2 separate regions of the Homo sapiens genome follow, and region 1 is linked to region 2. The links come from fine-mapping of genetic effects on gene expression. A gene starts in region 2. The other region holds a variant in brackets. All regions are shown on one strand. Distances are from middle to middle.

Evidence for each region. PIP is the estimated chance that this variant, and not a neighbour inherited with it, causes the effect.
Region 1: its variant is the best candidate, but not a certain one, in a credible set for the expression of EBF4 in whole blood (INTERVAL, PIP 0.71).

Annotation. Positions count from the first base shown.
Region 1 is chr20:2,712,887-2,717,272 of GRCh38, reverse strand. All of the region lies in intron 6 of EBF4 (EBF family member 4), which reads right to left. Among named protein-coding and RNA genes, the nearest start is that of EBF4, 22 kb to the right of the region's middle. The variant G/A (reference allele first, on the strand shown) is at 2,147.
Region 2 is chr20:2,690,997-2,695,382 of GRCh38, reverse strand. EBF4 (EBF family member 4) reads right to left here and starts at 2,603. Exons shown (of 17, transcript NM_001395167.1): 1 at 1,601-2,603. The coding sequence starts at 1,737. LOC105372507 (a long non-coding RNA gene) reads left to right here and starts at 2,763. Exons shown (of 3, transcript XR_937210.3): 1 at 2,763-3,317; 2 at 3,919-4,043. RefSeq lists an enhancer at 448-1,432.

The DNA.
Region 1 (4,386 bases), 22 kb before region 2:
TAAAGCCTAGAACCTGGTAAGTGTACTGTTTACCTAGTGCCTGGTACATAGTAGATGCTCAATAAATATTTATTGAATAAATGAATTAGTGAAAGTAATGAGTATTTGTGGCCGTTATTGAAAAAATTATAAAACTATATTGAAAAGCATTAAAGAAGATCTACAAAAATGGTGAGATAAACCATATTCATGGATCAGAAGACTCAGTAGCATAAAGACAAATTCTTCTTCAAATTGACGTATAGGTTCATTGTAATATTGCTTAAAACTCTAAGAGGAGTGTGGTGTTTACATGGAAACACAAAAGGCCAAAATATCCAATATTCAACTGAAGAATGTTCAGGGAAGGTGGAAGACTTGCCCTATACACTTGTCCTTGCATTGGTATTATACAGATATAGTGATTTTAAAAAGTGATGATTACATAGGAGTTATCAAATAGATCAAAGGAATAAAATAGAGAGTCTAGGAACAGACCCACAAATAGCAGAAAACTTGATATAGGACATAGCTGGTACTACAACTCAGTGGGAAAGGATGAGCTATTTAATAAATGGTATTGGAATAATTGGTAGTTCCTAAGTAAAAAATAATTACATTGATTCCTTAATTCACACCATACCCCTAATTAGTTCCATAGGGATGACAAATGTGAAAGGGAAAACTGTGAAACCTTTGGAAGAAAATATAGAAGAATATCTTCATGACCTCAGCAGAGAAAAAGAATTTTTTTTTTTTTTTTTGAGACGGAGTTTCACTCTTGTCGCCCAGGCTGGAGTGCAGTGGCACGATCTCGGCTCACCACAACCTCCGCCTCCTGAGTTCAAGCGATTCTCCTGCCTCAGCCTCCCGAGTAGCTGTGATTACAGGCATGCACCACCACACCCGGCTGATTTTTTTGTATTTTTAGTAGAGACAGGGTTTCTCCGTGTTGGTCAGCCTAGTCTCGAACTCCCGACCTCCGGTGATCTGCCCGCCTCGGCCTCCCAAAGTGCTGGGATTACAGGCGTGAGCCACTGCGCCTGGCAAGGATTTTTTTTTTTTTTTTTTTTAAGACAGGGTCTTACTCTGTTCCCCAGCTGGAGTGCAGTGATGGGATTATGGCTCACTGCACCCTCAATTTTCCAGGCTCAAGCAATCCTCCCACCTCAACCTCTGAGTAACTGGGACTATAGGCATGAGCTATTGTGCCTGGCAAGATTTTTAAAGTAAAATACAGAGTAAGGCCGGGCGCGGTGGCTCATGCCTGTAATCCCAGCACTTCGGGAGGCCAAGGCAGGCAGACCACTTGAGGTCAGGAGTTCGAGACCAGCCTGGCCAACATGGCGAAATCCCATCTCTGCTAAAAATACAAAAATTAACAGGGTGTGATGGCGTGCGCCTGTAATCCCAGCTACTCGGAAGGCTGAGGCACAGGAATCACTTGAACCAGGGAGGCAGAGGTTGCAGTGAGCCGAGATTGCGCCACTGCACTCCAGCCTGGGCGACGGAGTGCAACTGTGTCTCAAAAATAAATAAATAAATAAATAAGCCAACAAATTAAAAGATGTTCAACTTCAATAGTAATCTGGAAAATGCAAATTAAGGCCATCACAAAATGCCCTGTACACCCACCAGATTGGCAAACGATAAGAAGTGTGACATTATTAAGTGTTGGTGAGGATGTGGAGCGATAGAAACTCAGTATTGTGGGTGGGAGTGTTACTTAGTCAAACCACCTTGGAAAACAGTTGACATCAACTTGTTAAGATGATCATGTGCGTATCCATGACCTGACAATTCCTGACCTAGTTTATATCCTAAACAAACTCTTGTACTTACTCAAATTAAGAGACACAAACAAGAATGCTCATAGCAGCTTTGCTTATAATAGCAAAAACTAAATATGACAAACTACAGCTAAATACAACAAACTACAGCTAAATACAACAAGATAGATAAATCTTAGAAATATGCTGAATTTAAAAAGAGCATTGCAGAAGGTTGCTGCAACATGGTATCATTTTTTTTTATAAAGTTAAACACAAGCACAACTAAACTACACCAACACACTTTTTTTAGGATTATGCAATCTGTGATGAATTTTTTTTTAACAAGCCAGGTCATGATAAACACAAAACTTGGTTTACCTGTAGGAGAGGGTTAG[G/A]CAGTGGTATGGGGACTGGGGGGAGCTGGCTTCAATGGTATTTCTCATGTTCTAATTTTAAGTTTGTTGGTAGGTTCACAGGTGTACATTGGTTATTATACCTTATAATTTTTAATTATACCTTATAATTTTTATTTTGTTTTACTTTTCTTTTGCATGTATCATATAGGATATAGTAACAAGATATTTTTCAAATGAATCAAACATTTAAATGTAAACAATGAAACCATCTAAATACTGGAAGCAACCACAGGATACATTTAAAAAATAATATTGGAGTGATAAAGGCCTTTCTAAATATAATGAAAACCCGGAGTATGTAAAAGATTTAGGAACTGGGCAAATTTCACCATAGGCAAAGTTAAATGACTTGAAAAAATATGGACAACTCATCACAAAGGGATAATTTCATTAATACACACTCCTACAAATCAGTTTTTTAAAAAGTCAATAATTTACATACAAATAAGCACATGGTGGGGTGTTGTGGCTCATGCCTGTAATCCCAGCACTTTGGGAGGCCAAGGCAGAAGAATTCCTGGAGCCCAGGAGCTCGAGACCAGCCTGGGCAACATGGCAAAACCCCATCTCTACAAAAAATACACAAGTTAGCTGGGCTTGTTGGCGTGAGCCTGTGGTCCCAGCTACTTCAGAGGCTAAGGTGAGTGGATGGCTTGAGCCCAGGAGGTCGAGGTGCAGTGAGCTATGATTGCGCCACTGCACTCCAGCCTGGGCAACAGAGCAAGACCCTGTCAAAAAAGAAGAAAGAAAGAAAAGAAAGAAAGAAAGAGAGAGAGAAAGAGAGAAGGAAAGAAGGAAGGAAGGAAAGAAGGAAGGAAGGAAGGAAGGAGAAAAGAAAAATAAGCACAGGATATGAACAGACAGTTCACAGTAAAGGAAACACAAATAGCCTTTAAATAGCCCTGGTGGGCTCAACCTCACTCAGAGTAAGAGAAACGGAAATCACTGGGATACTGCTGTTCGCTTACACGATGGAGAAATATGAGAAAAAATAGTTACGGTAACCACTGCTTGTTGCTGCCATTTATCTTCCCCAAGATCACTTACCTTCACTCCATGAAGCTTTACTCCTGGATCATTATATACACCCTTGAACATTTGTCCCTGTCATAATTCTTGGTTATTTCAATGTCAGTATAGACAGATAATTATTCCAATGCACTCTCTTCTCCATTCCGTGAGCATCTTTTCTCCAACGATCTTGTCTCCACCTTCCCTGGCCACGCATTACCAATTCAACCCTGAATCCCATCTGCAGGCAACCCATTCTCCATCCACCTAACATCCAGTTCAACCCCTGTCTCATATCTCAACTCCAACAATCCTTTGGCCCCATCAGAATTGATGTCCACACTCTCATCATACTCGTCTCTTTACCCAGCTTAAATCCTTCCATTTTTAAAAAATAAATATCCCTTGCACATACATTTCAGTCTCTTGCCCTCTCATGTTTCCTTCTACTCAACTGACAAACCTCTAACTCTGGTTTTATGCAACCACTCACCTGTTCTGCACCTGCACCTGTGCAGCTCAACATGGCTGGAGAAAGTTATCACCAAATTTATGATCATAAACGTCAAGGGTACCCTCAGTGCCGCTTGTCAATCACATGACATTCATCCCCCTGGTTCACTCACTCTCTTGGATAACTATATCACGCCCTCTAGTGTCTCCCTCTCTATCCTTATCTTCCACTGTTGACCTTGGTTCTCAGTTCATGGAGAAAACAAAGCAATCAGAAGACAACATCCAAGCTCCCACTTGGATATACCCATTTATCCACTTCTGTGTCCATGTCTCTGTCTTCCCTGCTTTTCCATGGATGAACTGTCTATGCTCCCAGCTAAAACCAGCCTCTCTACCTATGCACTAGGTCACATCCCTTTTGCCACCTGAAGGATATTGCTTCAGCAATTCTCCCCTCTCTCTTGCATCCTCATTTTCCCCTTCCCTCCTGGCTGTTTCTCGTCAGCATATGAGCAAGCTGTATTTTTTCTTGGCACTACACAGTGCTCCAGACATCATCTGATTCCTTTGATTTCTTTAGAGCAAAACTCAAAAGAGTTCCTCTACTCACTGTCTCCAATCTCTCTCCTCCTGTTCTCTCTTAGACACAATTCTATCAGTCTTCTGCCCCTCAACTCCACTGAAATGACTCCCGTGACAGTCACCAATATCCTCCTCATTGCTAAATCTAATGGTCAGTCCCTAGTCTTTGT
Region 2 (4,386 bases):
GAAGCCTTATCCCCACACTTCTTGAACCCCACGCAGTCTCCAAGGGCACTGCCTCCTTCACGTCTGCTTCCCCTTCATCAGACCTGCCTCTGGGTAGGCACAGAGGGAAAGGTTGCAGAGAAATGGAACCTTAACTCCCAGAGGCCCCCATCAGCACTCCTCACCCACTCTTACAAAGAGCTCTCGCCACACAGCAGGTGGTGGGGCCAAAGAGGGGGCCATGTTAAGAAACTAACCTTCTCAAGTTGAAAAAAAAAAAAGCCAGAACCAACAGAAGAATAGGCAGGAGGTGGAATTGTAAGCATAGCACAGGAAAACACAAGTTAATGGGAAGAAAAATAGGAAGGAAATACACTAAAATGTTGACAGTAGTTGTATTACAGAGGAGGGACTAAATTTTTTATTTTCCAATTTTTCTAGAATATAGCTATATCCCTTGTAAAAGTTTTGGAAATTAATTCATCCACAAGACCCTTTCTCTTCCGTAAGAGATCAGCTCCAGAGCCCCCCAGCGTTCCCTCCCGACAGCCAGGAAAGGACCGGCGTGCAGAAACGGCTTCAGTTTGCACATGAAGCGCGGTGTGTGTCTGTTACACGGTGAGGTTGAGGCGTCCTGCGGAGTGTGAATGTGGGCTCCTGTGTCAGGCCCGGTCTGCATTAAGCCCCCCATTCAGAATCCCTTCGGGCTGCTGCAACAGCTCAGACTTCTGGGAAGCCAAGTGCCCACCCTGTCCCAGCTGTCAGCAGAGCTGGCACCTCCCTAATCCTAACCACTGTGACTCCCCATAGGATACCTAAATGCCTCCCTCCATGGTCACAGCTGAAGGTGCAAAAAGCCAGGGGGTGCAGGGGCTTTGGGGGCAGGTCAATAAACTTTTAAAGTTCGCTTTCAAATCCTGGAGTCAACCCCCTACTGAGACTCCCAGACCCCTGCAAAGGAGTCAGAGGAGACCGGCGCGGGTGCTGGGTTCCCAGGGACTCTCTGCCTTCCAAAGGACCTACCAGAAAAACACCCGAGGGAAAGGCAGGGGCCCTGCCCAGTTCCCAGGCCAATCAGTCCAGCCAGGCCGACTGCCCACCTCATCTCTTCGCCACCGTCCAGCCCCCAGCCGCTTCTCTGGCTCTGCACACCCCCATCCGCCAACTCTGAGGGGCGTGGGAAAGGAAAAAGGGGGCTGGGTTTCGTGCCTTTCCTGACAGAGAGCTGCGGAATTGGACAAGGAGAGTCACTGGGACTGCCCAGGAAGGAGGGGCTGGACGTTCCTAGACGGCCGGTGGCTGTGGGTCATGGCTGGGAGCTCTGCCTCTTCTCTCAGAGCCATAGACAGCCCGGCTGGGGTGGCGTTCACCGCCGCACCCGCGAGCGGCCGTCAGAAATCTACCGGGGCAGCCCGGAGTGGAGGCAGAAGCCCCGCCCCAGCCCGCCCCACAGCCTCAGGAGGCAGCACAGGCACTCCGGACGGGGTGGGCCGGGGAGCTCGCCGGGACCGTCCAGAGTTAGGGCTCCTTCCGCCCCTGGCTCCAGCAGCTCCAGCAAGCTGAGCTGAGGCGGCGCGCAGCCGTCCAACCCGAGCGCACCGGGTCCGGTCCGAGCGCTTACCTCTGCGCCGCGGTGCTGGCGTCCAGGATGCCCGCGCCCTGCATCCAGGAGCGCACTGAGCCCAGGCCGGCGGGCAGCAGCGGCTCCTCCTTCAGGTTCAGCCCGCTGCGGGGCAGAGCGTCCTGCGCAGGGAACATGAGGGCGCGCGGTGAGTGAGCGCCCCCGCCGCCCCGGATCCGGTCCCGCTGAGGCTGCGGGCGTCTAGCTCAGCCCGACCCGACGGCACCAGGCGCCTCCAGCAGCGCAGCGCCGAGTCCGGGTGGCTCAGTGCGCGCTCGCCTCTTGGGCGCTCCCTCGGAGAAAGCGGGTCCGCGGGCGCCGGCGCTGTCCCCTCCCCTCCTGGGGCGCTGGGCGGGGAGATGGAGGGATTCCCCCGCGGCCTGAGCGCTGGCGGGCGGACTGCGAGCGGGGCGGGGAGGGCGGGGAGCGGAGCCCGCACCCGGTCCGCGCGGAGGCGCCCCAGAGGCGCGCTCTGGCGGCTGCCCGGGGCCGCGGTCGTCGGAGGGGGGGCCCGAGCGCCCCGGGAGCTGCCTCGGGCAAGGCGGGGGCGCGGGGCCGCCCGCCCTTTCCCCCTCGCCGCCCCCACCTCCCGCCCGCCCGCCCGCCCGCGGCGCCAGCGCGGGGCGCTGATTACCATCCGGGAGGCGGAGGCTGCGGGCGCGGAGCTCGGCGGCGGCGGCGACAGTGGCGGCAGCGGCGGCAGGAGCAGCAGCAGCCGCGCGTCCCGGGGAAAGGCTGGGGCCGCGCCGGGCCAGCAGACGCCGCCGCCGCCAGCGCCAGCGCCCCGCGTGCCCCGGCGTCCCGGCCCTGCCGTAGCCCCGGGCGGCAGCACCTGGAGCAGCAGCAGCAGCAGCCCGGCCGACTCCCCCCGGGGCCCGGTTCCCGCGCCGCCCCGCCGCGGCCGCCGCCGCCCGCCGCTCCCCGGGGCCTGGCCTCGGGCCCGGGCCATCCCGCCGCCGCCGCCGCCGCCGCCGCCGCTCCCGGGGGAGCGGTAGCCGAAGGGAGGGAGCGCAGGCGGGAGGAGGGATGTCGGGAGCGGGCGGGCCCAGGGGACGGGGGCCCGGGGGAGGCGGGGGCGGGGCGGCGCGGCCGGCCGAGGGGCGGCCGGGGACGTGACATCATCGGGGGAGGAGCGGCCGGGCCCGGGCCGCGGCGGCGGGGCGGACCCTGGCGAGTCGGTCGCCTGGGCTGGGGGCTGCGGCCTGGTCGAGGCCGCGGGAGGGAACGGAAGAGCCCGGCGGGGGCCACGGAAACCCGCGCAGGGAGGATCCGGGGCCGCGCGGCGAGGGAGCCCGGCCCGAGCGGGAGGTGCGCGCCCCGCTGCGCTCGGGAACCTCCGCGGCCTCCCCGTCGCCGCCGGACGAAGCCCCGGCGTCTTCGCGGCCTCATCTCCCTCCCCCGGCACCCGCCGTACTCTCCGCGCCCGACGCCTTGTGCCTGGACTTGCTGCTCATTTTGACGCCTCCGAGCTTTCGCTCTTGACGTCTTTCTCCCGCGTGACTGTACTCCCGCATTTCCCCGGCGACCCTGACCTCACTTTCACCCCAGCTAAGGACTGAAACGTCCCTGCCGTAGGCTGCGGCCCCAGACAAGCTGGGCGAGGTCCCTGCATCCAACCATCCCGATTCCTGATGCTGGGTTACCTAAGCCTAAAGCATTTTCAGTTTCCATCTGTGCCTTTCAGGAACCTCCTGATTTCTGATTGCGAGTTGGACAGGTAGGCTCAGAGCCCAGCTCACCTCCTGTTTCTCCCCAGCCGCGTCCCGTCTCAGATCCCATTCCTTTTTTTTTATTAGTTCCTGGCACAGAAGTCGTCTGGCCCTTGACCGTGGGGCAGAGACATTTCTGCCCCTCTCCCCACGTTGTCCTGGCCAGGCTTCGAGCAAGCCCAGACTGAGTCCAGCACTTTCCTGCAGAACAGCATGGGGGCCACCTGCCCTGCCTGCCATGTTCACGCTCAGACACCCCTGCAATAACACCTTCCTGCTCCAACTCACTCCCATCCTCTTCTGGGGGGCCTCCAAGTGTGAGTTAGCGTTCTGTCACACATTGGCCCAGATGAGGCGTCCTGGGGGCACTGCTGGTTCTCCTGCCATCACAGAGGCCCTCTCACCTCCTTTCCTGGTCTCTTTACCACCCCTTCTCTCTATGCCTCTCCCCATCACCCACAGGGGGCTGCCATTCCCACCAGGACTCCTTCAGGTCTCAGCTTTTACCCTAGGTGGGATTATCAAACATGGGTTTCTCCTTAAGACAATTCTTAAGCCAGTCTCTTTCTCCATCTCCTGATCTGCCTCTCTAAATCTTGCTTCTCACAGTGTGGTCCCCGGACCAGCAGCATTGACATCACCTGGGAGCTGGTGAGGAATCCAGACTCTTAGGCCCTGCCGGGACCTGCTGAATCGGAACCTGCAATTTACCAAGACCTGTACACACATTACATGTGAGAAGCCCCCCCAGAGCTGTTCCACACTTGCTCCACTCCTCTCCCCAACATTCAGACCCACCTCTGGCTCTCTCATTTCCAGCAGACACCCTTCCTCTTACCCAGTGGAGAGGACTCAGGGAATCTTGGCAGAACCCTGCTGGCACCATCAGCGGCGTATGCTCCTCCTCGTTTCTGTCTTTTCACCCGTTCTCTTCTCTCGGTCTTCCACTGTGGAGATGGATGTGGAACCTTTTTGCTTAGTCCTGTCTTCTGCCTTTCCTGAGATTACCCCACCGATCTCCTGTTTGTGTCTCAATATGTTCTTTTCTCTGCTCAGATCTCCCCATTCTTAAAAGAA